Homo sapiens: one gene and its partners. The gene in region 1 interacts genetically with each later gene. Each region holds a gene or a part of one and is shown on either strand. Other genes may lie near its edges. The genes, in order: NF1, TOP3A, ATG9A, RPRD1B, FBXW11, CDK10 and EBNA1BP2.

What was found.
Region 2: changes in NF1 (region 1) and TOP3A are lethal when combined (synthetic lethality), as found in Homo sapiens cells (one large-scale study listed by BioGRID).
Region 3: changes in NF1 (region 1) and ATG9A together harm fitness more than expected from each alone (negative genetic interaction), as found in Homo sapiens cells (one large-scale study listed by BioGRID).
Region 4: changes in NF1 (region 1) and RPRD1B together harm fitness more than expected from each alone (negative genetic interaction), as found in Homo sapiens cells (one large-scale study listed by BioGRID).
Region 5: changes in NF1 (region 1) and FBXW11 together harm fitness more than expected from each alone (negative genetic interaction), as found in Homo sapiens cells (one large-scale study listed by BioGRID).
Region 6: changes in NF1 (region 1) and CDK10 together harm fitness more than expected from each alone (negative genetic interaction), as found in Homo sapiens cells (one large-scale study listed by BioGRID).
Region 7: changes in NF1 (region 1) and EBNA1BP2 together harm fitness more than expected from each alone (negative genetic interaction), as found in Homo sapiens cells (one large-scale study listed by BioGRID).

The regions. Positions count from the first base shown.
Region 1 is NC_000017.11:31,227,477-31,230,976, forward strand, and holds part of NF1 (neurofibromin), read left to right. Parts: intron 1-46; coding exon 47-130; intron 131-1,548; coding exon 1,549-1,989; intron 1,990-2,358; coding exon 2,359-2,498; intron 2,499-2,783; coding exon 2,784-2,906; intron 2,907-3,365; coding exon 3,366-3,449; intron 3,450-3,500. UniProt on the Homo sapiens protein: Stimulates the GTPase activity of Ras. NF1 shows greater affinity for Ras GAP, but lower specific activity. May be a regulator of Ras activity.
Region 2 is NC_000017.11:18,270,089-18,273,961, reverse strand, and holds the end of TOP3A (DNA topoisomerase 3-alpha), read left to right. Parts: 3' UTR 1-2,534; downstream 2,535-3,873. UniProt on the Homo sapiens protein: Releases the supercoiling and torsional tension of DNA introduced during the DNA replication and transcription by transiently cleaving and rejoining one strand of the DNA duplex.
Region 3 is NC_000002.12:219,222,706-219,227,044, reverse strand, and holds part of ATG9A (autophagy-related protein 9A), read left to right. Parts: intron 1-111; coding exon 112-176; intron 177-1,472; coding exon 1,473-1,634; intron 1,635-1,832; coding exon 1,833-1,974; intron 1,975-2,190; coding exon 2,191-2,939; intron 2,940-3,022; coding exon 3,023-3,176; intron 3,177-3,280; coding exon 3,281-3,460; intron 3,461-4,151; coding exon 4,152-4,339. UniProt on the Homo sapiens protein: Phospholipid scramblase involved in autophagy by mediating autophagosomal membrane expansion. Cycles between the preautophagosomal structure/phagophore assembly site (PAS) and the cytoplasmic vesicle pool and supplies membrane for the growing autophagosome.
Region 4 is NC_000020.11:38,064,166-38,068,504, reverse strand, and holds part of RPRD1B (regulation of nuclear pre-mRNA domain-containing protein 1B), read right to left. Parts: intron 2,425-4,339; coding exon 2,249-2,424; intron 1-2,248. UniProt on the Homo sapiens protein: Interacts with phosphorylated C-terminal heptapeptide repeat domain (CTD) of the largest RNA polymerase II subunit POLR2A, and participates in dephosphorylation of the CTD by RPAP2. Transcriptional regulator which enhances expression of CCND1.
Region 5 is NC_000005.10:171,996,145-172,000,483, forward strand, and holds part of FBXW11 (F-box/WD repeat-containing protein 11), read right to left. Parts: intron 908-4,339; exon of another isoform or gene 746-907; intron 1-745.
Region 6 is NC_000016.10:89,692,948-89,697,286, reverse strand, and holds the end of CDK10 (cyclin-dependent kinase 10), read right to left. Parts: intron 4,014-4,339; coding exon 3,961-4,013; intron 3,890-3,960; coding exon 3,820-3,889; intron 3,115-3,819; coding exon 3,055-3,114; intron 2,860-3,054; coding exon of another isoform or gene 2,742-2,859; exon of another isoform or gene 2,725-2,741; intron 2,719-2,724; coding exon of another isoform or gene 2,623-2,718; coding exon 2,499-2,622; intron 2,357-2,498; coding exon 2,217-2,356; intron 1,995-2,216; coding exon 1,942-1,994; intron 1,693-1,941; coding exon 1,595-1,692; 3' UTR 1,559-1,594; coding exon of another isoform or gene 1,512-1,558; 3' UTR 933-1,511; downstream 1-932. UniProt on the Homo sapiens protein: Cyclin-dependent kinase that phosphorylates the transcription factor ETS2 (in vitro) and positively controls its proteasomal degradation (in cells).
Region 7 is NC_000001.11:43,163,684-43,167,326, reverse strand, and holds the end of EBNA1BP2 (probable rRNA-processing protein EBP2), read left to right. Parts: intron 1-91; coding exon 92-167; intron 168-407; coding exon 408-501; intron 502-2,521; coding exon 2,522-2,684; intron 2,685-2,833; coding exon 2,834-2,884; 3' UTR 2,885-3,143; downstream 3,144-3,643. UniProt on the Homo sapiens protein: Required for the processing of the 27S pre-rRNA.

The DNA of each region.
Region 1 (3,500 bases):
AGCTCTAGACTAAGTTGCTTTCAAGTGATAATTGCCTTCATTTTAGGCTTGGGAAGATACACATGCAAAATGGGAACAAGCAACAAAGCTAATCCTTAACTATCCAAAAGCCAAAATGGAAGATGGCCAGGTAAGTCTGTAAAGTTGACTTTTGTCTGTTAACTGATCTGCTAAATATATGTACTTCACTTTGATAATCTTTCAAGAGTCGCTCAGTAAAGTAAACATATAGCTGTGTGAAGACTGATATTTAGTTGTGGTTTATCTAGACCTGTACTTTGTAATGTGGTAGCTACTAGCTATGTGTGACTATTTAACTTAAATTTTAACATAATTAAAATTAAATAAAATTTAGTTCCTCAATCATATAGTAACCACATCGCAAGTACCAGTAGCCACATATGACAATTACTTACTCTATTGGACAGCAGAGAGAGAAAATGTTCCTGTCATCACAGAAATACTGGGCAGCACTGCTAGAGACTGTTTGTTGCAGAGACCATTTCTTTACCTTTTCTTGCTCTTTCTCCCTTCATCAGGGTGTTTCACAGAATTTTCAGAAAAGGAGCAACAGAGGTAGAGATAAATTAACATGGAAACAATTCATTTTGCTATTTTGTTAGGTATTCTAATTAAGGAATGTCTTAGGCAGTAGATTGATCCCATAGAGTAAATGAAATTTTAAAATGTGGACAGTTCATTCAACTATTACTATTGACTATATTATCTGTTACTTTGGAAATTAATGATCAGTTAGTGTTTGTGTGTATTTGATTTGTAATGTTCATATTGCTCTCATTATTAGGTGATTTATAAAAACTGGTTGTTCCTCCATGGTGTTTTTGTCATGCTTAATTACAATAGGAAAAAGTTATATTTTTACGAAGCAAATGTGTGTACCTAATACCTTTATTTGGAGGGGACATGTAGCTTTAGAATGAAAGCTTTTGGGGGGATAACTGTTTTATATAATTACATACCATACAGTTCACCCATTTAAAGTGTCCAATTCAGTGACTGTTTTTAATGTATTCACAGAGTTGTGCAACCATCACCACAATCAAGTTTTAGAACAATTTCATCAATTGAGAAAAAAACCCCGTACCCTTTAGCTATCTCTGCCTCTAACCACCCCCCACCCACTTTCTTGCCTCTCTTCCCCCAACGTCTCTAGCCCTAGGCAACCATGAATCTACTTTCTGTCTTTGTAGATTTGCCTATTCCGGATATATTCTGTAAATGGAATTATAGAATATGTGGGCTTTTGTGATTAGCTTCTTTCACTTAGCATGATGTTTCCAAGGTTCATCCATGTGAAATCAAAACTTTTTAAAAGAAATTTGACACTCGGCTGATTATATTAGTGTATGATAAAAATAGATCAGTGGCTCTTTAAAAATGTATATGGTAATTTTATGGGTTGATTTTAATGTATATTTTACATTTTTTGTACTTTTGTCATGGAAGAAATGTTGGATAAAGCATAATTTGTCAAGTCTCAACTAATTAAGGTTTAATTCATGCTTTGCACAAAAATTTTGTGTTTAGGCTGCTGAAAGCCTTCACAAGACCATTGTTAAGAGGCGAATGTCCCATGTGAGTGGAGGAGGATCCATAGATTTGTCTGACACAGACTCCCTACAGGAATGGATCAACATGACTGGCTTCCTTTGTGCCCTTGGGGGAGTGTGCCTCCAGCAGAGAAGCAATTCTGGCCTGGCAACCTATAGCCCACCCATGGGTCCAGTCAGTGAACGTAAGGGTTCTATGATTTCAGTGATGTCTTCAGAGGGAAACGCAGATACACCTGTCAGCAAATTTATGGATCGGCTGTTGTCCTTAATGGTGTGTAACCATGAGAAAGTGGGACTTCAAATACGGACCAATGTTAAGGATCTGGTGGGTCTAGAATTGAGTCCTGCTCTGTATCCAATGCTATTTAACAAATTGAAGAATACCATCAGCAAGTTTTTTGACTCCCAAGGACAGGTAAAGTGTTCTCTTATTTTTCACCTTTCTCTATGAATAGAGTGACTTGTTTGAAATAAGCCTTTTTCTTTCAGATTATTTAAATTAGGTACTCACAGTTTTTAAAAATTTCCAAAAAATTGCAGAAAGAAGAGTCATCTCAATGTAGGGGTCAGCTTGCCTCTTAGGAACTCTGGTGTGTATGTGTGCCTAAGGGTATACGTGCCCTGTGTATGGGTACGAGTGTCTGCGTATATCTGTATGCTTATTTGGCTCTATGCCTGTGGGTGCACTTACTCTGTGTGTTTAGATCAGTCAGTTTCATCTCTCTAGGGGGTCTGTCTTCTGGGCATTGATGGCAAATCATTAATGTATTTGTTCTTTCTTTAGGTTTTATTGACTGATACCAATACTCAATTTGTAGAACAAACCATAGCTATAATGAAGAACTTGCTAGATAATCATACTGAAGGCAGCTCTGAACATCTAGGGCAAGCTAGCATTGAAACAATGATGTTAAATCTGGTCAGGTAAGCATTCTACTGAAATGTAGCAGAAACATTTTAAGAGATAAGAAAAACCTCTTACACACTGATACTGGTAGTAATTGATAAAATAACTGGCCATTCTTTACTGCACACAAACTAGGGTGTGACAGTAAGGTAGCCAGAAGTTGTGTACGTTCTTTTCTAAATAAATATCTTATTGTTTTCAAACTTACATTTAATTCGTTTTACTTGATGACTAAAGTATTTAGAATGCCTTCTCTTTTGTCTATATCTGATAATTTTTTTATTGTTTCTATGTCTATATAGGTATGTTCGTGTGCTTGGGAATATGGTCCATGCAATTCAAATAAAAACGAAACTGTGTCAATTAGTTGAAGTAATGATGGCAAGGAGAGATGACCTCTCATTTTGCCAAGAGATGAAATTTAGGTGAGTTCTCAAAAGAGCAATGTAGGGTCTTGTAAATCTTAATATGTCCAATGAAGTACAGAAAAAGAGTAGATATGCGGTTATTGGTAGAAAGGAGGACATGAAAAGAGAGCAATTTACATGTTTGTTTTTCTCTACATCTCTTCTCAAATTTCCCTAAGCTTTGTGCCTGTGACAATGCTCCCTTTTTCTAAAACTGTGCTATACTTGAGCTAAGAATTTGATTCTATTTCCAATCTGATACCATAACTAAGGGCCATGATGGAGGATAAATATCCATGTTGCTTGTTCCCTTCTGGCTTTTATGTCTGTGATAGCAGTATCTCTTTTATAAAGTCGTCATGTCACTTAGGTTATCTGGCAAATTATTTGCACTATAAGAAATCTTACGTGACTAAAGGTGTGTGTGTGGCTTCAAAAACATTGTTTGCTGTTTCTCTTTTCTCCACCATTCTATAGGAATAAGATGGTAGAATACCTGACAGACTGGGTTATGGGAACATCAAACCAAGCAGCAGATGATGATGTAAAATGTCTTACAAGGTAAAAAAAGAATGACCTTCAAGTATTAGTGGGTTTTACTGTGAGAGTTAT
Region 2 (3,873 bases), about 13 Mb from region 1:
AAATTTAAAAATTTAAAAAAATAAAAAGAATCCAACCCCGGCAGGGCGTGGAGGCTCACACCTGTAATCCAGCACTTAGGGAGGCCAAGGCTGGAGGATTGCTTGAGATCAGGAGTTCAAGACCAGCCTGGGCAACATAGTTAGACCTTGTCTCTATTTTTAAAAATATAACAAGCACAGTTGTACACGTCTTTAGTTCAGCTGCTCAGGAGGCTGAAGTGGGAGGATCCTTTGAACCCAAGAGTTTGAGGCTGCAGCAAGCCATGATCACACCACTGCACTCCAGCCTGGGTGACAGAGTAAGACCCTGTCTCAAACTTTTTTTAAAATGAAAGAATCCAACCTTTTTTTACTCTGACCTGCGAGAGTGCAGAGGGTCTGGGGAACATTTGCAGAAGCAACAGGTACCAGCCAGTGCTGGAAGGAGCTCACCCTGGGAGGTCTCGTCAGCCTCTGTCCTTCATGGCTGTCCCTTGTGTCCCATGTGGAGAGCCCTTCCTCCCTTTCCACATGGTAAGCACTGAGCCCAATTTCTTCTCACCCCACAGATGGTCCCTCAGAGCAGAGATGTCTAATGAAAGGTTCAGATTCAGATCACTAACTTTCCATCTTCCACTTTTTCCAGTGGTGGCCATGTTCCCCCGTTTGCCTTCACAAAAACCTTGTGAATAATACAAGCCATATGGACTCTGATTTACAGTTTAGAAGATGAGCAGAGGTGGGTGTGAGTTGCCCAGTCATGTTGCTAGTTGTTGAAGAAACTAGGATTGTTCTCAGGTCTTGGGCTCCTGGCCCATAGACCAGTGGCTCTGTGTTCTGATGGGGTATTGGGGAGGATTTTTACAAATGCAGGTTCCTGAGATTGTTCCTGGAACATCTCCGAGTGGGTGTGGGTTGTGGCCCTGCGTGTGTGATTTTGCCTATCCCAGCTCCGGGGTACCACCAACCACTTTTTGTCTCTGTGGGTTTACCTACTCTGGATATTTTGTTTAAATGGAATCATACCAGGCTGGGCACAGTGGCTCACGCCTGTAATCCTAGCACTTTGGGAGGCCAAGGTGGGCAGATCACCTGAGGTCAGGAGTTCGAGACCAGCCTGACCAATATGATGAAACCCCGTCTCTAAAAAAATACAAAAATTAGCCGGGCGTGGTGTCAGGCACCTGTAATCCCAGCTACTCAGGAAGCAGAGGTTGCAGTGAGCTGAGATCGGGCCATTGCACTCCAGCCTGGGCAAAAAGAGTGAAACTCTGTCTCAAGAAAAAAAAAAAAATGAAATCCTACCATACATGACATCCTGTGTCTGGTTTCTTTGACTTGGCTGATGTTTGTCAGGCTCATCCACATTGTAGCATGTCAGTCCTCGATGTTTATGATAAGCTGATAGCCCACTGTATGAATATACCACACGATTATCCATTTGTCAGTTGATGGACATTGGGTTGTTTCCACTTTTTGGCTATTGTGAATAGCACTGTTGTGAACATTGGTGTATGAGTGTCTGATGACTTGTTTTCAGTTATTTTGGGCATATGCCGAGGAATGGAATTGTAGTTTTATACCATAACTCCATGTTTTGACTTTTTGAGGAACCTACAAATTTTCCACAGTGGATGCACCACTTTACACCCACCAGCAGCACACCAGGGTTACTGCTTCTCCATATCCTTGTGAACACTTGTTCCTTTCCTTTTCTTGTATTATAGCCATCCTAGTGTTTTGTCATCCTAGTGGGTATGAAGTGGCGTGTCATTGTGGTTTTGTTTTGCATTTTCCTAGTCATTAATGACATTGACCATCTTTCCACAGGCTTACTGGCCATTGGTATACATTCTTTGGAGAATGTCGATTTAAGTTCTTCACCCATTTTTTATTTTTTATTTTTTATTTTTTTTTGAGATGGAGTTTCGCTCTTGTGCCCAGGCTGGAGTGCAGTGGTGCGATCTTGGCTCACTGCAACCTCTGCCTCCTGGGTTCAAGCAGTTCTCCTGCCTCAGCCTCCCAAGTAGCTGGAATTACAGGCATCTGCCTCCACACCCAGCTAATTTGTTTAGTATTTTTAGTAAAGACGGGGTTTCACCATGTTGGCCAGGCTGGTCTCAAACTCGTGACCTCAGGTGATCTACCAGCCTCGGCCTCCCAAAGTGCTAGGATTAACAGGCAGGAGCCATCACACCTGGTCTCTTCCCCCATTTTTAAATTGTGTTGTCTGTCTTTGTTGTTGAGTTGTAGGAGTTCTTAATAGTTTCTGGATATCAGATGCCTTTGTGGTTTTCACATCTCTGCAGGCAACTGTGTGTCTCAAAAGCAAACTGCAGGATTGGGCTGCACCATGGACTGGGCCAGGCATCTGAGATCAGACAGACCCAGGCTCAGCTCCCACTTCCTGGCCTCTTCTGCCACCCTGGGTGTGCAGCCTCATCCTTGGAGCCCCAGTTGCCTCATCCGTAATGGGGTGTCCTTGTTCATATTGAGGCTCTCTAGTGAAGGCTTACGGTCAGGCACGACTGCAAATTAAAGCTTCACAAATCAAACCTGTTGGAATTTCTAAGTCTCTCTCGATGGCCCACTCAGGTTAGCAGCATGCAGCTCATCCTACCCCGTCAACGTTGACTGGAAGGGTTTTTAGTCCCTGTGTTGAGCCACATCTGCAGCTTGTGCAATGCAAAACCAAGGAAAAGAAAATGGACCCCCCCCGCCCCCCCCTTGATGGATCTAGCTGAGACTAGGCACTGGCCAGGCTGTCACCTACAGTGGTTTCAACCTCCTGCTGCCAGCAAGACAGCATCTCCTGTCCTTTTTGTGCAGGAACCATAGCTCTGTTGGGTTAAGTGTTTTCCTCTACCAAGCAGCTAACCTGGCCTTGAAACCTAATCTCTGATGCCATGTCCCCCCAAGCCCCATCAGAGTTTTGTAAAAAGCCCCTCCCTGCTCTCCACACCAATGCTGAGAGCCCATGGGGTAACTGGAGGCTTCCCTGCCATCTTGGCAAAGAAGCCTGGCTGACGTCCTGCACATGCTTCCCCAGGTGATTGCTTGCACTTAACAGCAGAGGAAACGAGACCACCCCACACAACTTGTAGCAGTTGAGGAGTCTCTGCCTGATCCCACCCCGGATACTTAGAGCATCCAGAATTAAAAATAAGCCTTGTCACCAACATCCGGCTCCCCCACTCCCCAGAGCCAGGCTCAATGTGCCCAACAGCGCTGGGGCCCGCACCTGGAGGCACTGGCTTTTGAGACACTGGGCAGAGACCCCACTGCCCTTTGGGATGAATTCACCACCTGCCTCTTATAGAATCCGGCCGAAGACCTGGGATGTTCACATTCAGCTGGATCTCCAGGTTTCTTGGACTGGAACACAGGTGGCCCCAGCTCAATATGCTCACCAGGGTGTTGCCACTCACCTGTTGACCGTCCCTACCAGGGACAGATCTGTGCACCCCATCCCCACCTTAGACCACCAGCTCACACACAGGTGGTGTTGGTGCAGTGGTTAATGTTAGGTGTCAACTTCACTAGATTAAGGGATGCCGAGATGGCTGGTATTTTTTCTGGGTGTCTGTAAGGGTGTTGCCAGAGGAGAGTGACATGACTCGGTGGACTGAGAAAGGAAGACCTACCCTCAATGTGGGTGGGTACCATCCAATCAGCTGCCAGCACGGCCAGAACAACAGGTGGAAGAAGGGGGATGAGCACCTTGCTGAGTCTTCTCCAGCCCTCTCCCTCTTCCGTGCCAGATGCTTGCTTCCTCTTCTCTGCTGTTGGACATCAGACTCCAGGTTCTTCGGCATTTGGACTCTGGGACTTGCACCAGCAGCTTCCTGGAGCCTTCTGCCACAGACTGAAGGCTGCACTGTGGGCTTTCTGGTT
Region 3 (4,339 bases), on another chromosome or scaffold:
GTCACACAGCTAGAAAGTCACAGAGCCAGGACTTAAGCTTGAGTGTGTTGACACCAAAGTCTGTGCTCTTACCTGCTTTCTTTACTGACTACTTTTTCTTAACAATTACACGTTTATAATCTGCACCAGAAGAATGGCTTCACATGTATGCTCATCGGGGAGATCTTTGAGCTCATGTAAGTATAAGAAGGGACAGATGATGTGGTGAAAGAATACATCTTAGTCTTTCCTCTCCTTGCACTCACACTTGGCCCAACCTGCCAGTACAACTCAGTCCTAGGCTAAAACTCCGTAAACCTTTGTAGTTCAGGGACTGGGTGTGGCACCAAAACTTACAGCTTCACCTTTCTTTTTTTTTGAGATGGAGTGAGTCTCACTCTGTCGCCCAGGCAGGAGTGCAGTGGTCTTGGCTCGGTGCAACCTCTGCCTCCCAGGTTCAAGTGATTCTCCTGCCTCAGCCTCCTTAGTAGCTGGGACTACAGGCATGTGCCACCATGCCCGGCTAATTTTTTTTGTATTTTTAGTAGAGATGGGATTTCACCAAGTTGGCCAGGCTGGTCTCGAACTCCTGACCTCGGGTTATCTGCCCGCCTCAACCTCCCGAAGTGCCGGGATTATAGGCATGAGCCACCACGCCCGGCCAAGCTTTCTTACAAGAAAAGCTTTCCAAGCCTTATCTCTTCCATGAAAAGAACCCAAGCCTTGGTTGGGCACGGCAGCTCACACCTGTAATCCCAGCACTTTAGGAGGCTCTAAAAATACAAAAATTAGCTGGGTGTGGTGGCACACGCCTGTAATCCCAGCTACTTGGGAGGCTGAGGCACAAGAATCGCTTCAACCTGGGAGGTGGAGGTTGCAGTGAGCCGAGATTGTGCCGCTGCACTCCAGCCTGGCTGACAGAGTGAGACTCTCTCAAAAAAAAAAAGAATGCAGGCCTTGACCTTGATCATCTCAACGCTCCAATGGAACGTACATTGTTCAGTCAGGAGGTCTCAGAGATGCCAGCCACAGAGAAAAGCCTCTGTTCTGCCTTGCCTGTTCCATGGCCTGCTCCTAGGCAGAGAGCCTCCTGGGAGAGAGAAGCCATATAGCATTGCCGAAGGGGAAGGGGTTAGGAAGCCCTCCCTCAATCAGAAAACTCCCCCAAGGGCTTTTAACTACAACCTCAAAAGGAAATCAGAGACTGGAGATCAGAGACCCACAGGATGAAACCTTCGAGAGTCCAGTAGTGGTGGCTGAGGTTACCATGAGGTGAGGAAAGTAGGCTGCAGCTGTGGCAGCTGAGGCTAAGAGCAAAGAGTGGGCCTGAGACAGTCCTGTGGGGCTGAGGAGCAGAGAGGGCCCACTGGGAGTTCTCCAGGCCCTTCCAGTTCCCAGTCTTGTTCTGCCACCTCCAGACTCTCCTCTTCCCACTGGGTTTCACTGGAGCCTCTCTGGCTCTCAGACTGCACCCCTTCTTCCCAACTCCCCAGGCAGTTCCTCTTTGTGGTTGCCTTCACTACCTTCCTGGTCAGCTGCGTGGACTATGACATCCTATTTGCCAACAAGATGGTGAACCACAGTCTTCACCCTACTGAACCCGTCAAGGTCACTCTGCCAGACGCCTTTTTGCCTGCTCAAGTCTGTAGTGCCAGGTAAGGGCTGCAAGTCAAGAGGACACCATAGCCTTGAGTTCTGCTAGCAGGTGGGTAATAGAGTGGAGTCTGAGGCAGCAACTCATACTCCAGAACTGACTCAGGCTTGGTCTAGCAAAAATACTTCAGGATAGCAGCGTCTCTGCCAAGACTCCTTCCTCGAGGGCCACCTCTCCTCCCCTTCTTTTTCCCCACCAGGATTCAGGAAAATGGCTCCCTTATCACCATCCTGGTCATTGCTGGTGTCTTCTGGATCCACCGGCTTATCAAGTTCATCTATAACATTTGCTGCTACTGGGAGATCCACTCCTTCTACCTGCACGCTCTGCGCATCCCTATGGTAAGACTGGGAAGTTGGGCAGTTAGCCCATAGTCTAAGACGTATTGGGAGGTGTGGGTGTATTCCTGGGCATCAGTTATCCTTATCTGTCATTGACAAATCAGGAACTGTCTCTTAAGCTCACAACCCCTGAATCTCACTTCTAATATAGGGCAAAGGGGTCGAGGCAACAACCCCACCTTCCGTACCTTGTCTCTTCCCCACCCCACCCCGCAGTCTGCCCTTCCGTATTGCACGTGGCAAGAAGTGCAGGCCCGGATCGTGCAGACGCAGAAGGAGCACCAGATCTGCATCCACAAACGTGAGCTGACAGAACTGGACATCTACCACCGCATCCTCCGTTTCCAGAACTACATGGTGGCACTGGTTAACAAATCCCTCCTGCCTCTGCGCTTCCGCCTGCCTGGCCTCGGGGAAGCTGTCTTCTTCACCCGTGGTCTCAAGTACAACTTTGAGCTGATCCTCTTCTGGGGACCTGGCTCTCTGTTTCTCAATGAATGGAGCCTCAAGGCCGAGTACAAACGTGGGGGGCAACGGCTAGAGCTGGCCCAGCGCCTCAGCAACCGCATCCTGTGGATTGGCATCGCTAACTTCCTGCTGTGCCCCCTCATCCTCATATGGCAAATCCTCTATGCCTTCTTCAGCTATGCTGAGGTGCTGAAGCGGGAGCCGGGGGCCCTGGGAGCACGCTGCTGGTCACTCTATGGCCGCTGCTACCTCCGCCACTTCAACGAGCTGGAGCACGAGCTGCAGTCCCGCCTCAACCGTGGCTACAAGCCCGCCTCCAAGTACATGAATTGCTTCTTGTCACCTCTTTTGACACTGCTGGCCAAGAATGGAGCCTTCTTCGCTGGCTCCATCCTGGCTGTGCTTATTGCCCTCACCATTTATGACGAAGATGTGTTGGCTGTGGAACATGTGCTGACCACCGTCACACTCCTGGGGGTCACCGTGACCGTGTGCAGGTGGGCCAGGGCCACAGGCGGGAGCAAGCCGGCTAGCATTCCTGGGAAAGGCATACATCTCACCATGATCCTGATCCCACTAGGTCCTTTATCCCGGACCAGCACATGGTGTTCTGCCCTGAGCAGCTGCTCCGCGTGATCCTCGCTCACATCCACTACATGCCTGACCACTGGCAGGGTAATGCCCACCGCTCGCAGACCCGGGACGAGTTTGCCCAGCTCTTCCAGTACAAGGCAGTGAGTGGAGTTGGAGTTAGGGCCTGCTAGAGACTGGCTGGTAGCTCGGTGGTGAGGGCTGGGCTCCCTCCTGCTCGCTTGTGACCTTGGTCCCGCCCTTTTAGGTGTTCATTTTGGAAGAGTTGCTGAGCCCCATTGTCACACCCCTCATCCTCATCTTCTGCCTGCGCCCACGGGCCCTGGAGATTATAGACTTCTTCCGAAACTTCACCGTGGAGGTCGTTGGTGTGGGAGATACCTGCTCCTTTGCTCAGATGGATGTTCGCCAGCATGGTCATCCCCAGGTACTGGGAGAGGAGGGAGCCAGGTGGCCTGGGATGATGCTGGAACATACAGTGTCTTTGGGAAAACCGCAAAAAGACACCTCTCCTGAGTCACACAAAGGCAGTCCTATACCAGGGGCACACTGCTTGGGAGCCTGGGCTGGATTTCAGCCCTAATTCGCACCCTTGGCCAAGCTCCCTTAAGAAAGGCACAACACGGCCAGGCGCGGTGGCTCACGTCTGTAATCCCAGCACTTTGGGAGGCCAAGGCGGGTGGATCACGAGGTCAGGAGATCGAGACCATCCTGGCTAACACGGTGAAACCCCTTCTCTACTAAAAATACAAAAAAATTAGCCAGGCGTGGTAGCGGGCGCCTGTAGTCCCAGCTACTCGGGAGGCTGAGGCAGGAGAATGGCGTGAACCTGGGAGGCGGAGCTTGCAGTGAGCCGAGATCACGCCACTGCAATCCAGCCTGGGCGACAGAGCGAGACTCCATCTCAAAAAAAAAAAAAAAAAAGGCACAACACAAGTAACTGGCTCAGCATGCAGTGCAGCCCCTCCTGGGTCTGGGGGGGCACCAGTGCCCTGGGAAAGATTGACAGTATACTGTGGTCTCCGTTCTCCAAGGGTAAGGCCTCCCCACTAACAGGAAAGGTGCAGGAAGGCTCCTGGAAGAGAACAGCCCTGCTTACTCTGCTCTTCCTTGTGCAGTGGCTATCTGCTGGGCAGACAGAGGCCTCAGTGTACCAGCAAGCTGAGGATGGAAAGACAGAGTTGTCACTCATGCACTTTGCCATCACCAACCCTGGCTGGCAGCCACCACGTGAGAGCACAGCCTTCCTAGGCTTCCTCAAGGAGCAGGTTCAGCGGGATGGAGCAGCTGCTAGCCTCGCCCAAGG
Region 4 (4,339 bases), on another chromosome or scaffold:
CGGGGGATTGGTTGAGCCTGGGAGGTGGAGGCTGCAGTGAGCTGAGATCACGTCACTGCACTCCAACCTGAGTGACAGAGCGAGACTCCATCTCAGAAAAAAACCTTATACTGTATCTAGTCATTTGCTTTCTTTAATGCAGCAAATCGGCTCTATTTTTTACAATAAATGGTTCTGCTCATGTGCCTCGGAGACATGGTTTGAGATAAGAACCTTCAGTTCAGACTCTGTACGTTGGTTCCAGTGGTGGGGCCTTTCTGTTCCGCTTCTTCAGCAATGGAATGCCAGCCCCATTCCACTGAATGAACCGCGCAGAGCAACGCAGACTGGAAAGTTACAGAACGCATCCAAAGCTCTAATCTGTTTCTCCACCTTAATGCCCTCTCGTGGCGTCCAGCAAACCACTAGTTCTACAAAAACCAGAATGATTCCCCAACAATATACAGAGCAGAGTGCAACTGTGGGGAGGGAAAACAGAACAAAGAGTTAACCAGCTCTACCAACCCGATCTCCTCAAAGACTCTGTCCTCTATGGTTGCTTGCCACGTTCTACCCAACAACAGCTGCTCATGATAATCAATGTCTGACAGATCAGAGAAAGCCCTTAATGTGTCGCCAAGGGGCAGTTCAACAGATGGCATGGTGACTTACAACCAGAATCATTAATTACACTCTCTTATTAGTCCCGGGGCACAGTGCTGAAAATGCTTCCTCAGTGAAAGATGAGCATTTCAGATAAATGACCGTCTGGTACTGCCTGTAAAACTCCCTTTAGGATCTCTGGTCAGTGCCGATGTCTAAATCTAAGCTGTAGGATTTTTACAGCCCTTTCCCATCTTCCACATTCAAGCAGGCTACGAATGTGAAGTTCCTGCTACCACTACGCAACACAGTTCCCAGAATCACTGCAGGTAAGGATACGGTAAAAAGTGCCTGCCACTCATTTCCCCTCAAGTCAGATGACCATGCTGAAAGGCAAATACAATGATCTCAGCCTCAGAGATAGCTCAATGTTCCCTCCTTCTGTGCCAGAGCACGTTTCCTGAGCATGGAGGTGACATGGCTCTCCCTGTCCCTTGTCTACTCTGAGTGGGATTTAAGAAGTATTTCTTGAAATACAACATGACTGGCTCTCTAACTCAGAAGTGTCCTCCTTCACAAAACCACTGGCTGCAACTCTTTTCCATATCTCTTAAAAAAAGAAGAGCAGACATTCCTGAAAAGGAAGTGCAGCAGCCCGGGGCAGCAAAGTTCCCAAAAATCCACACTGCTGGCTCTGTTATCCCACGGGAGCAAGTACTGAGGGTAAACTACCATGTACTTAATTACGAAGCCAAACAAGTGTATGGTGAGGAAATGTTTCTGAACTCCCTCCCCAAGGTCACTCAGACTAATGTCCTCAACCCAGGGTAGAAATGAGGTCTTTTACAGTTTGAGAACTGTGCTATATAAATACTACTGTGACATTTAAGAGCTAATTACAGATAGATCTTGGAGGCAGACAACTTCTTGGCCGCAGCATGGATAAAGTCAGAAATAAACCTCCAAACGGCTGGGCGCGGTGGCTCACACCTGTAATCCCAGCACTTTGGGAGGCTGAGGTGGGCAGATCATGAGGTCAGGAGATCAAGACTATCCTGGCTAACATGGTGAAACCCCGTCCCTACTAAAAATACAAAAAATTAGCCAGGCGTGGTGGTGGACGCCTGTAGTTCCAGCTACTTGGGAGGCTGAGGCAGGAGAATGGCGTGAACCTGGGAGGCAGAGCTTGCAGTGAGCCGAGATCGCACCGCTGCACTCCAGCCTGGGCGACGGAGCGAGACTGCGTCTCAAAAAAAAAAAGAAATAAACCTCCAAATGACTTGAAAGAAACATTTTTCAGCACTTCCCAAATACTACCAAACATATTCTTTGGTTTTCACTGATTTGCTATCCTTTTTGTACCTCAATTCGTAATTTTTTTAAAAACATGAGTTCAAACGAAAGCAATATTAAGATCCTAAGGCTGTGATTAAGAGTTCACTGTTTGTTTCCTACAATCCAGTTTGTTCTGTCCTGGACATATAAGAACATGACTTCAATTTTTAACTGGGCTCAAATAATTACAGTATCTGATGGATGTTCAGAATTCACATCATGAATTTTTAAACGATAAAAATGTTGTTAATTAAAGCATAATAAAAACCTCCTAATGTGGGCTACAGGAAGGGAAACGTGGGCAGTCTGGGTCTGCCTTCAATGCACTCACCTCTAGTTTTTTCTCCTTCTCCGACAAAACATCTTTCTGATTCTGGGTATACTCCACCAACATCCGAGCCAGCTGGCGACGGTCCTCCAGTTCTGCTGCCAGGCGCCCGTTATATTCTGCTAGTAACAGACATGCTTCATCTACTGTTTTTGAAAGACGTTCAGCTGCCTCTTTGTCTAAGTACAAATGAGACCAAAAAATAGAGAAAATATACAAATCACACAGGTATGACTACAAACATTTCTGGGGGAGGTTAACGGTTTCTCTCCCAATATACAGAGTCTGAGAATAAGCCAGCACCTGTGGACAAACAATGAGTTGATTAAGCAAGAAATCCAAAGGCATTCACTCTGTCAACAAGACAGGACACTACTCAATTACCTGAAGTGAGGAAGCTGTACATGGGGGGAATCTGGCAAAGGCTTTCTAAATGCCTGTTCCTGCAAAAGCTCTCCTGACAAAACAAGCATAAAGAGATATTGAAGATCACCTGTGAAAAAATCGTTCCTTGTCTCTGAGAATTGCAAGTGCTTTCATTTATATTACGGTTGGCCCCTATATCTGTGGGTTCTGTATCTGTGGATTCAACCAACCATGAATGGAAAATACTCAGACCAAAAAACCCCACAAACCAATAAAAATAACAATTAAAAACCCAATTTTAAAAATACAGAATAACAACTATTTACATAGCATTTACATTGCATTAGCTATGATAAGTAATCTAGAGAGTATTTAAAGTATATGGGAAGATGTTTGTTGGTTATAGACAAATCCGACACCATTTAAGGGCCTTGAGCAACCTTGGATTTTGGTATCCTCAGAAGGTCTTGGAACCAAACCCCCATGGATATGGAGGGACCACTATATTTCATTAAGTAGTCTTTTTACTTTCCACTGGAATAAAAAATAGCATGCACTTATTTATTGGGTGTGGGAACTAAGACCCCCTCCCCGCCAGAAAAAAAACTACATGACAGGTTTCTATATGCAGTGAGCTGAGATGCTGGGGCTCGAAGCCAGATCTCTAAAATGATCTATAGCACTCTATCTCTTAAACTATGTAAGCCTTGGACGTGGGGATGAACTTCTTCCTACATTTGACAAAATGTAAAGTCTGATAAGAAAGAGGTTTTTAAATGTTTCTGAACATGACCCACAGCAGAAATACACTTATGTAAATACACAGAAAAATGAAAGCAGCGTTTCATAAAATACCCATTCTTACTATGTGTGCTCTATCTTCTATTTTATCTCTTTTTTTTTTTTTTGAGATGGTGTCTTGCTCTGTGACCCAGGCTGGAGTGCAGTGGCATGATCTCGGCTCACTGCAAGCTCCGCCTCCCAGGTTCATGCCATTCTCCTGCCTCAGCCTCCCGAGTAGCTGGGAGTACAGGCCCCCGCCACCACGCCCGTCTAATTTTTTTGTATTTTTAGTAGAGACGAGGTTTCACTGTGTTAGCCAGGATGGCTTTATTCCATTTTTCAAAAACTGTTGGTCATTAGCTACCAGACTGATTTCATATCCAATTAATGGGTTGTAACTCATGCTTTGGGGGTGGAAAAACATTAAGAAAGGGTATTTTTGGGAAGAAGTGATGAACAAAGGCTCATAATTAAGAAATGAGAAGAAAAAGCAGGATCTGTATTTACAAAGAACTGATATAATTAATTATGTGTGGGTGGTGGTGAGATTCGAATTTTAAATATGTATAACTCATTTTTAAAAGACCTGAATGAATCAAAAGAGTAGGTTGGTGCTTTGAAACAAAGGGCACCAGAGACTCCGGCAGTACCGTGGGACAGTTCCATGACATTCCCTATGGATACAGGCTGTCAGAGGTGAGAGCTCGCATTCTCCTGGGGAACTAGGATTTAAGAATCCCCAACACAGTATCTCTGGCAAACAGCCATCTGGCTTTTCGATGCCTTCTTAATGTGAATATTGCAAGAGGAACTGCTGAAGGATTCCAGATTGGGTGTGATGCCAAAGATTAGGAACCTCTACCCTCCTCAGGGATGGGAAACAAAGAATGTCCTTGGTGAAGGGGAAGAAGTGAGCGGAATGGAACACAAAGGAAAGAGATCACC
Region 5 (4,339 bases), on another chromosome or scaffold:
AACCTCCCCAAGACGACCTGCCAAGAGACCTCAGAATAAAATATCACCACTTTACATGAAACCGCAAAAAATATTTTGACCAGGTATTAACTATTATATAAATCATGTGAGAATGCCTCAAAGTTACCATTTGTTTTCCATATTTTACAAGCTATTCCCTAAACAACATATGTCTCTGTTTACTGTATTTCCTATTAGACTATGAATAAAAACTATTTGGGCTTACAATAAAAATAACTGAGTTAGGCGTGGTGGCTCATGTCTGTAATCCCAACACTCTGGGAGGCCAAGGCAGGCAAATCATTCGAGCCCAGGAGTTCAAGACCAGTCTGGGCAACATGGTGAGACCCTGTCTCTACAAAAAAGAAATTAGCTGAGCATAGTGACATGTGCCTGTGGTCCCAGCTACCTGAGAGGCTAAGGCAGGAAGATCGTGTGAGGCCAAGAGGTCAAGGCTGCAGTAAGCCATGTTTGTGCCACTGCAGTCCAGCCTGGGCGACCTGATGTCTCAAAGATAATAATAACTGCACTTCTTACAGTAAAACAAAGTTTTTACCAGGAATTCAGACACATAGACCTTCACTGATCCACACTCAAACATGGCCAAACATGACACTACGCACAAACGTCTAATATTTCTCCCTTTCCCTATTAATGGACAAAATAAATAAGGGAAAATATTTTTCAAAATTTCTTTCAGCGAGTTGAGTTCCACAAAACAAAACAATACAGGGTAATTGCTTACCTGGAAAATATTTTGTACTTCAGATCCACCAATCCAGAATGAATGGGGGTTTTCCCTTTCAGACTAGTCTGAGAAAAGACAGCAGTCAAGCATCTTCCAAGATTCTTTCCGTTTACTGTATCCAGCTTTCTTCAACAAAATCCCAAACATGCACTTCGGTAACTGTTGAAAGACAGAAAGCAATCCATACACCCACCATGGCACCAGCGGCAAAGGACAGCCTCCAAGAAATGGAAGGAAGGGTCAATGGAATGGTGGATCTGAGGCACAGGAAAAAAGTTATAACCCCTGAGTCAGCTATTTGGCATAAAATGCCTGCAGCAGCATTCCTCACCTCTGTGTTGAAAGGATACAAAACTCGTAACAAATAATGGAACATCCCTAATGTTAATATTTACTCATGATAAACAGCATGCAACTTCCAAATGAGAGCAGCTAAAAAATACCTACCCTATCATCCATATAAATTGTCCTAGACCATTCAGCTACACTGAACTTCCTTATCCATTTTCTAAGACAGCTCCTCCACCATTAGAAAAATAGTTTGTCAGCCAAAAAGAATGATACGAGAGGGCTCAAATATCTACCATAAAGATATTTATTTACGTACCTAACAAAATGTTTTGGTTTGCTACATATAAGACATCATATCTACATATTACCCAAATCCTCTACCCTTAGCTAAAATATAGTGTGCTTCAAAACATATAACTGAAGACTGAACTTCTGACTCAGTAAAGGCCAGTCCCGTACAATGGCCAATGATCACGTAAACTGGGAAAAATCATAAAGAACGCTAATATACAATTTACTAGGTGACACCATTAAATATTAAGTCCTGTCCATATTATATCAATATTCTTTTTCTACCATATCAAATTAGACTGCAAATTCTAAACAAACTAAAAGGGAAAGAGAAAAAGCATTCAGCAGAACAACAAAGATAAAAACAAAAAGACTGAACTTACTCGAACATAAATTTGCTACTTCCACAATTGCTACATTATAGCCAAAATGCTCCTGCAGTAATTATAGTAATACCTACCTTATTGAAAAGCTACTAACTGGCCAAGCCCTTTACATTAATTACCCATATTTAATTCTCAAAAAAAGATGAGCAGAAAGAAGTAACCTATCCAAAGTCCCACATCTACTAGGTAGTAGAGCCCATGCCCTTTTCATGGAGCACTATGGACTCCACAGTTCAAGGGTCAGAAAGCCCATGATTTCTGAGAGAGGAGAAGAAATCAAGCTTTACTCTCAAAGGTCCTAAATTAATTAACATCAAAATGGAGAACAATGAAAATACAGAAGAGTAAATATTTCAGCCTACATGAATCAGTTGGGCCATCCTGAAAGGGTAATTCCCTAGATCTTGCCACTTAAAAAAGCATTTAATTAACAAAGAGCCATGCAATTCTACAGCCCATGATATTTTTTTCTTGTCTTTTTTTTTTTTTTTTTAAGTAGAGACAGGGTTTCACCATGTTGCCCAGGCTGGCCTCGAACTCCTAAGCTCAAGCGATCTGCCTACCTTGGCCTCCCAAAGGGCTGGGATTACAGGTGTGAGCCCCCATGCCCAGCCTAAAGCCCACAATATTAATGCTAAAACAAAACACATTATAGGCTGGGCTCGATGGCTCACACCTGTAGTCCCAACATTTTGGGAGGCCGAGGCGGGCAGATCACTTGAGGTCAGGAGTGTGAGGCCAGCCTGACCAACATGGTGAAACCCCATCTCTACTAAAAGTACAAAAATTAACCGGGCCTGGTGGCACATGCCTACAATCCCAGCTACTCGGGAGGCTGAGGAAGGAGAATCACTTGAACCCGGGAGACAGAGGCTGCAGTGAGCTGAGATCGTGCCACTGTACTCCAGCCTGGTTAACAGAGCAAGACTCCGTCTCAAAAAAAAAAAAAAAAAAAAGACTGTGGCAAGACATACTATAATGGTACTCAAGTAGTCTTTGTGTTTAGCAGCAAAGATTGTAACTGTGACAAAGAATCTCAAATCCAGCTGAACCCAAGTAATTTTTAAATTCTAAGATTTGTTGACAGTCCACAGGCAATGACTCTTAAAGATGTTCTGATTGTTCATATTGTAGGTAAGGCAATTAAAGTGACTGAAATACCGGTCTATGATTAACCTCGCCATAACAATCAGATGAAAATACCTTAAGACTCACAACTTTAAGGAGATCACAAAAGTAAAATCCCAAGCAAATAATGAGTTCTCAAGTTTTTCCCATTAAGTGGTATTACTCCTAAGCCTAAGAATAAACTGGAAACCCAATTTTGACAGAAGTAGCTAGGGAACTATGGCTAGTAGCGAACTGCTAAAACAGTATACTATGCTTTTCAAGGTACGACTATCCAAAATGCAAAACAAGTTATAGCAAAACACAACCACAGCAATTTGACTAACAGACTCATTTCTGGACCTCTTGAATCCTCAGGCTTTTCCCCTGTACTAGTGAGTTAATTTTTCTCCCTTCCCTTCAAAAAAAAAAAATATATATATATATACACACACATATATATTTCTTCAATCCCTAATTGTATATATATATTTCTTCAATCCCTAATTGCTGGCAGGCCTTATGCTAGTAATACAAAGATTAACAGATGCCAGGTGAGTAGTGTCAGGACTGAGTTCTTCCTGCCCCTCTGCCCCCTTTCTCTTTGAATCTATCATGTAGTCATTTCAGAGGGCCAAAATATATTTTATTGTTAGTTACCAAAACTGGTTCAATGTTCTCCAGTTAACTCCTAAAAAAATAAACATTAAAAATTACTCAAGTTCCTTTTTCACAATAGTAGAACCTCAGTCTTTCTTTTTCTTCTGTGGATCAGAGGCTTTTTACTATACAATGGTTTCCTACATTCAATATGCTTATATTTACACACCTCTCTATCACAAGCCAAAGAGCCAAAGCTTTTTTTTTTATTTTTCCTATTAATGTCCCAGTGTTTATACTTCACAGCTTTCCATTTTGTGAAGCTCTTCATTGTTAACTCAACCTGAGAGGGAATTTCCTAAAAACGCTTCCCGCTGACATCACAGAACTCTTCCATCTTTTAGTTTCATTAAAACACTAAGAACCAGGTAAGAGATACCCTACTGGATTGTCAGGTCTTCCTGGTCTGTCTCTCATTTGCCTACAAAGACAAACTTCCTCTTAAGCAATTGCGATCAGCAGAAACTAACCAAGGGTAACGAGCACATTCTTAACCAACACGTTTCTTCCCCCATTGTCATCTAATTCAATGAACAATACAACTCAGAAGAAAATCTTGTATGAATTCTCACTGCTTATTCTGTTAAGGTTAAAACCATCAGCTTTGATGATGGTAAGAATAAGAATTCAAAAACCACAATTTGGTCAGTCTAAACTAAACCGATCAAACATAAATCCCAATGCTCAATGTCAATATAAACTAATCACCAGTCTCTTTCTGTCAGGATACCAGGCATAAAAATAGGACTGGGTGGGTTCTCTCTGTAGTTACAGCATAGATCTAATTACGCCAAATTGGTAGTCATTGAAATAGTACCTCCCAGATTTTCCAAGACAGTATTGACTCTGCATGATT
Region 6 (4,339 bases), on another chromosome or scaffold:
TGCTTCTCTTTGCTGGGGAGGGGTCTGGGCCTCTGGTTGCCTTGTCCCTGGGGGAGTCCTGGGCACAGCAGGGGGTTGGAGAGTCCAGGCCAACCCTTGCTGGAGGTGGGACTCTCTGTATATGGAAGGCTCCAAGGGCAGCAGGCCTAAGCCGGCCAGCAGGAGCCTTTCCACATTTCCCCACCCTCGGAACCCAGACGCATGCCCACATGTGCTGGGTAGAGGGGTCCAGCCTGTTCCAGCCAGTGCCTGAACCTGTCCCTGAGAAGGACCCTGTGCCCCAAGGCCCGTGGCTCCTGGCCTGCTCCCTGCAGTACGGAGTACGGGGCTCAGGACTTGGGGGTCCTCCACGTGTCCCAGGGATTCTCCACACGAGTGTCCTCAAGGGCCTGTTGGTGACACCGAGCTCCCCCCACCCCAAGCTCTGCTGGAGCCAATCTGCGGGGCTCTGCCGGGTGCACGGCTGACCTGGCTTCGGGGACGCCGGCCCTCCCCTTGGGTGTCACAGCAGCTGGGCCCACAGACAGGAAATGACCTGACCTCAAACCAGATGTGGAGGTGCACGAGAGGCGCAGGAACGGGCAGTGGCTGACAGCTGGGAAGGCCCTGAGCGTCACTGCTGCTGGGCGGAAGGGCCTGTGGACAGCCCGCCCAGGCGGCGGGGTCTTGGTGGGTCCAGTGGTAATGGTGCCCCTCCCCTCCATTCCCTGTGGGTGCAGCCCACAGGCTGGCGAGGAGGTGCCTCTGCCCTACCCTCGGGTCTGGCGAGGGAGAGGGCAGGGTGCATCCACTGTGACAGCCCCTCTGGGCCCACAACTCCCTGACCCTGGAAGCTGAGCCTGCTTTCCTGACCCTCCGCCCCACCCCCTCCTCCCCAGAACACTCAGAGGGACGGTCAACATCAGAGCACATTAAACGCTGGTGAAACCATGTCTGTTAAAAAAGCTTTTATCCAACAAGAGCCTATAGCTTCGCTCAGCATCAGAGCCACGGCCTCCTGTTGGGTCCTCCATGTGGGGAGCAGGGATGCAGCTCAGCCTCCAGCCCAGGGCTCTCCTGGTAGTCTCGGGGTATCCTCAATTGTGGCTCCCACCCCATACCTTGTCCCTCTTGTCCTCATCTGGAGTCCTGCCAGGCCCACCTGGGGTCCCCACAGCCAACCCATGCACGGGACAGCCCCGGGCGACTGAGAGGGGATACGAAGGTCTTCTGGGCCCTCTCATCCCAGGCCAGCGTCCACCACAACTCAAAGACAGCGGGGGGACTGCACCCACCACTCCTCCCAAGAAGCAGTGGTTGCACATTTCCAACATAGCGAGGAGGACCACATGAGACCCCTGCAGCCACGGATGGAGCCGCCAGACCTGCCCTTCCAGGGTGCACGGGCTGGGAGCCCCCCGGTGTCACCCGGCCTTTTTCTGGGGGCAGCAGTGGGTTCAGGGCAGACAGTGGGAGGAAGTCAGTGGAGGATGTTCCCAGCCAAGGGGATGAGCTGGATCCCGGGCGCCTGGTCAGCCTGGCTCGCGGCACCCTTCACAGACACCACTGATCGGAAGACCTGGTGTGGGAATACAGGCGTGTGCCAGGCCCACCGTCAGGGTTTACAGCGCTTGCTCTGGCCCTCGGAGGTGGCTGGGGCGGCCCGCTTGTTGCGGTGGTGGGGAAAGGTCGGCATGAGCTCCGGCTCACAGGCTGCAGGGAGAAGGGTTCAGTGCTGGGCGGGGCAGGGCCCCAGATAGGAGGAGCAGGCCCAGGTCTGAGTCCAGCTCTGCCTCTGGACCTGGCCCTGGGCTGTCTGTGCCTCCACATGCCCCTGTCCTCTTACCCCAGAAAGGGTGTGCCGTCAGTGAGGGCAGCAGGCCACTTCTCCACCACCCACCCCGGGCAAAACGGGCTCCCAGCCATACCCCACAGAGCGAGTCAGGAACCCTGCACACTCACGTAGGGGCTTCTCCTTGAAATAGGAGCTCTCCAGGCAGTCCCCGGCCGTCGCCCTGGAGGAGGCAGCCTGCGTTAGTGCGACTTGTGAGTGCGGCTTCCTCACCTCCCACCCAGCTGAGCAGCCTGTGATTCAAATGCTCAAAGGAAGCCAGGTGGCCACTCCGAGCGGCTGTGCCTGGGGAGGGGCCTCTCCACCGCAGTGAGGCTGGGCTCTGGGAAACGGTCTGGACAGTGTGGGTGGTGAGGGTCCCTGCCCCCCGTGCAGAGATCAGCACCTTTTCTTAGGGTCGTACATGAACAGGAAGTGCAGCAGGCGCAGCCCGGCCTCCGACAGCCATGGGAACTTGTGCTTCAGGTTGTTGTAGGGCTGCTTCCGGAGGCTGTACTGGCCGACCAGTGGCAGCTTGGAAAAGCCCTATGGGAGGCAGGAGCTGAGGCGCAGAGGGCGTGGGCACGGGCGGGGGCTGCGGGCGCAGAGGGCGTGGGCACGGGCGGGGGCTGCGGGCGCAGAGGGCGTGGGCACGGGCGGGGGCTGCGGGTCTGCCCAGGACGCCCACCGGCCAGATGTTCTCACTGGGCGTGCCCAGCAGCTGCACGATCAAGTCGATCTGGTGGATCTCGGAAGTGCCGGGGAGAAGAGGCCTGTGCGCCAGCAGCTCGGCCAGTATGCAGCCCACAGCCCTGCAGAGAACAGTGGACCTCACTGCGGCCAGACGTCTGCTGACCCCGCCAGCGCGAGGAACAGAGGACCTGACTGCAGCCAGACCTTTGCTGACCCTGCCAGTGTGAGGCACGCTGGGTCAGGGACACTGTGAAGGACAGGCAGGGACCACTGGCTCCCCTCCTGGGCCCCGCAGGCCTCCCGGGGTGACAAGTGCAGGGGCAGGCGTGCCTCCTCCAGACCTCTGTGCTCCCAGCCTGAGAACAGCAAGCTAAGTTCTCACACCTCCTCCTGGGTTTCCAGGCTCAGGCCCACCTCCCTGGGAGTGGGAGGCTGGCAAAGACCCCACTGCACTCCTGCCCCTCCCCTGAGGCTGAGCTCAGGAACCAGGTGACCCGGCTCCTGTCCCAGCCCTTCCTGAGGCCCCAGGAGCGGTAACCGTATCTCCTCACCACATGTCGATGCTGGTGGTCTGCGTGGTGGTTCCCAACAGCAGTTCAGGGGCTCGGTACCTACACACAGAAGCACCCACCTCAATACAGCCGGCTCCTCTCCCCCAGCCCAGGCCTCCACAGGACACAGCCTCCCCGAGAGCCTGTGGTGGCCTGGAAACCTGTCCCAACTCGGACCACCCTCTGCCCCAGGCCCTGCAGATCCAGGTGGCACACACAGCAATGGTTGCCGGGGGCGAGAGCTGTCACGTGCAGCGGTGTCCTGAGAGTCGCAGGGACCACGGACCCTCGGCACACAGCCACACCAGCCACTACCAACCCGTTCTCAGATGGGGAGTACACGACACTGGGGTCCTGACCTGATTCTGACCAACTCTGATATTCAGCCCTGGCTAAGCATGACCCTGTTTGGTTAAAAGTATCCAGGAGGAAGAACCAGGGAAAGCATGCAAGCTGCCTGTCCTTCAGTCCGTGAAGCAGCCTTCCCTCCAGAGATGGTTTCACGGCCACGGTGTTTCCAGCTCTCAAGGCGAGGTGTGTCTGATCTAGGCAGGCCCTTGACGCCACTGAGCCCGTCTCTCACCATTTTGTGGCACAGCCCTGCTGTGTCCTGGAGGCTGTCCTAGACCCAACGTTTCTGAGTGTGCACAGACCCTGTAGCTTAACATTCCCAAGGCCAGTTGCAGCTTCGGCCTGACATCCCCAAGGAGACCTCCACCAGACAGGCCTGGTCCCCAGGGGCCACCATGCTTCAGAAGGACTTACCAGAGAGTGACCACCTTGGGGGTCATTGGCTTTACTGGGACACCATAGGCCCGGGCCAGGCCGAAATCCGCTGCAGCAGAGAGGGGAGTGTGTGTCACCAAGTGCCATCTAGGGACAGGGCCTGGCCCAAGTTGCACCCACCTGTCTTCACACAACCCTTGTCGGTCATGAGCAAGTTGGAAACCTTCAGGTCCCTGTGATGGAAAAACAGTGGCAGGTGGCTCCCAGAGGGCCACAGGGGCTGAGAGCTCCCCCACGGCACCAATGCCCGTAGACTTCCTGCACGTTTCCTCAGCTTTGGGCTTTTTAGTATCTTTTTTTTTTTTTTTTGAGACAGAGTCTCACTCTGTCGCCCAGGCTGGAGTGCAGTGGAGCAATCCCGGCTCACTGCAAGCTCCGCCTCCCGGGTTCACGCCATTCTCCTGCCTCGGCCTCCCAAGTAGCTGGGACTACAGGCGCCCGCCACCACGCCCGGCTAATTTTTTTGTATTTTTAGTAGAGATGGGGTTTCACTGTGTTA
Region 7 (3,643 bases), on another chromosome or scaffold:
TGGTATTAATCATGGTGTTGCTATTAAGACAATGTAGACACTGGAGTAATGGTATGGAATGGCTGTAACGGTCCTTGTGTTCATATCACAGGTGCAAACGGAGGTTCTTCAGAAGAGGCAGCAGGAGAAAGCCCATATGATGAATGCTATTAAGAAATATCAGAAAGGTTGGTACATCTCTAATAGGGGAACGAGGGTAGCAGGTACTTTAGAGTTGATTTGAACACTTAGTGCTTTGGAGCCTTCTTGGTTGATGTGGACCTGTCGGATCAAAGTTTTGGGAATGGTGTTGGAGAGCAGGATGTGACTCTTAAAATCAGTGTAGCAAATAACAGCCTCATATGGTGGTTTAAACTTTTATTCTTAAAATACAATGGTGCTGATCAAAACTACTTCTTCACTTACAGGCTTCTCTGATAAACTGGATTTCCTTGAGGGAGATCAGAAACCTCTGGCACAGCGCAAGAAGGCAGGAGCCAAAGGCCAGCAGATGAGGAAGGGGTGAGAAGGGTTTTGGCATGGTTTCTTTGGTTCTGTGAGGTGCGATGGGGCCACAGGTCACGAGTATGGCAGACATAGCACCTCCACCGGCGCAGCCATAGAGTCCAGAGAGTGCAGCTGCTGCCTGGGGCCAGGACCCCTATGACTGTGTGATGGGCCCTTTTAGCCATGTCAGTCTTTGAAGAGTAAAAGAAGGCACTTTTTAAACTTCTTTTTTTTTTGGACAGTCTCATTCTGTCACTCAGGCTACAGTGCACTGGTACAGTCTTGGCTCACTGCAACCTCTGCCACCTGGGCTCAAGTAATTCTGTGCCTCAGCCTCCTGAGTAGCTGGAACTACAGGTGCCTGCCATCACACCCAGCTAATTTTTGTATTTGTAGTAGAGACAGGGTTTCACCATGTTGGCCAGGCTGGTTGTGAACTCCTGGCCTCAAGTGATTCACTCACCTCAGCCTCCCAAAGTGCTGGGATTATAGGTGTGAACCACTGCACCCATCCTAAGAAGGTACTTTTAAGTATGTGGCACCCTTTAAGTGAATGCTGAGTAAAGTTGATTCCCCATCACACAGTGCGATGGTTGAGAGTTCAGACCTAGGGTTCAGATCCCGACTCTACCACTCAGTAGGAGGGCAGTTTTGAACGAGTTACCATGCCTTTCTAAATGCTAATTGCCTCATCTGCTAAGTTGAGGAAATAGTGTCTGCCTCATAGTATGAAGACTGAAAGAGAGAATGTGGGCTCTCATTGTTTTTTCTAGTCTGCTTTTTTGCATACCTGGATACCAGGCCTAGGGGAAATGATAATTTCCATGTAAGATAGTAAGTGCTATGATAGAGGCATTTGGGGATTAGTACTGAGTCAGCTTTTATAAATACCTGACAGGGTCTGGGGTGGATTTCTGGAGGAGCGTTCGACTTGAGCATTGCTTGAAGCATGAGTAGGAATTAACCACGAGAATAGAAGAGAAGCTGGGTTTGGGAAGAAGTAAGAGCTTGAACGAGCAAAGCCATCGAGATGTGAAACCTCAGGGTTTTGTGAGGAACAGTAAGCCCTTGGTGTCACTGGGAATACAGTGCAAAGCAAGGAGGGGTGCAATGTGTTTGGGGGGACCTGGGCTGTGGGTTTGCCTTGTTGAGGAGCTTGGGCTTTGTCAGAAGGCAGTGGAGAGACTAGGTTGTAGGTTGTACTAACAGTAATGAGCAGGTTATATTCATGTTTTTAAAAAGATCACAGTGGATTTTGTATAAGTGACAGACTTGAGGGAAGCTGGGAAATTGACAAGGGTACTATTGCAAAAGTCGAGATAAGGATTGAAGAAACATTTAAGAGGTGAAATGAGCAGGACTCAGTAATTGAATTGGGTATAAAGAGTGAGAGAAGAACCAAGGCTGACTCCCACATGTTTAGCCTGTGTGTCTGGGTTGGTGGGAGCAGCGCCAGCCTCAAGTGAGGGCATATGTACAGGAAGCAGAGCCAGTCCAGGAGATGATGTGAATTTGGAGATGCTGAATTCAAGATTCCTATTGGATGACCAGTTTTACATTTGAATGTTATTCCATTTGAATGTTATTTGAATGCCTATAATTACATTTGAATGTTTACATTTGAACGTATTCATTACATTACATTTGAATGTTACAAATGTAACATATTACATTTGGATGTTAACTGCATGTATTTACCCTTGAGAGGAATAGACACAACTGAGGGTGATTTAATAAGATTTGGTTAAAATAGAAAGCTTTCTAAAGACAGCAGGAAGCCATGTAATATATGTAGAGCCTTCCCTGCTTCTTGCTTTATTTTCCTGCCCTGGTGGTCAAAACTGTAAATAGGTGAGCTAGATGAGTTTGTCTAGAGAGGCTGTAGCATAGGATTGTGGGGCCAAGGATGAGATTCTGGGTTACAGACGTGCCTAAGGGGCTTTGCTTATAGAAAGGAAACTGAGAGCATTGCTGGGCCATCAGGTTCATCAGGCTTTACAGTGCTGTAGTGATGTCTAGGACCATTCTTTTCCAGGCCCAGTGCTAAACGACGGTATAAAAACCAGAAGTTTGGTTTTGGTGGAAAGAAGAAAGGCTCAAAGTGGAACACTCGGGAGAGCTATGATGATGTATCTAGCTTCCGGGCCAAGACAGCTCATGGCAGAGGCCTCAAGAGGCCTGGCAAGAAAGGGTCAAATGTAAGTGAGCCCAGGTGCCCGGGTGAGGAGCAGGCTCAGCCTCCCCTCCCACTCCCAACCCTGCCCTCTCCCTTCAGTTCTGTTCGTCCTCACCCTGGGGCAGAAGGCAAGCTGCTATGTGACCAGATGTGGTATGTCTTTTTCTGTAGAAGAGACCTGGAAAACGAACAAGAGAGAAGATGAAGAACAGAACACACTAAATAGCATCTTTGAATACAAAGAACCAAGAAAAAGGAATGAAGACTCGCAATTTCACGACACACTTTGATCCCTTCTGTTGGTGTCATGTTGTAAACATTTCTTTCAATAAACTAAAGAAAAATTATTAAAGGAACACATACCTTTGGTTAAATAGTCTAGACTAAAAGATTGAGAAGTTACTTTCCATTGCTATCTATTGATAATTTAGACATTGAGTTCAAATTGCCTTCATTTTATGATAAATAATGATTTAACTGACACCTTCTCATTTCCTTTGTCTCATCCTTCTAAATAGTTATATTACGATCAATCCCTGTAAAGCTCAATGCCCATATTTTACAGGTGTGAGCCACCGTGATTTTCTTTGTGGTACAGCTTTTGGTTTTTCCTCCAGTTAACCTTCACCTTACATTCTTCTGCTTGCCTAATTTTCCTTCTATATTCTTAGTTCTTTCCAGATGCTTTGTCATTTTACCCACTTTATAATTTTTCTCCTACAACCTAGTTATGCCACACAACTGTCACCTTTTTTCTAGACCGTTTAAGTTGGCACCATTATTTCCAGAATCCCATGTTTTCCCATCTTAGCATATGCCTTCTTTTGCTGTGTACCATTTTTTGGTATCTTACTAAGAAAGGGAAGATGAGAGGTAAACTTTTTATCTCCTTGCATTTCTGAAATTGCCTTTAATTTGGGCTGATAGGAATTTCCTCCTTAGAATTTTAGAATTTCGCAGGCACTGTTTTTAAGTTTTATT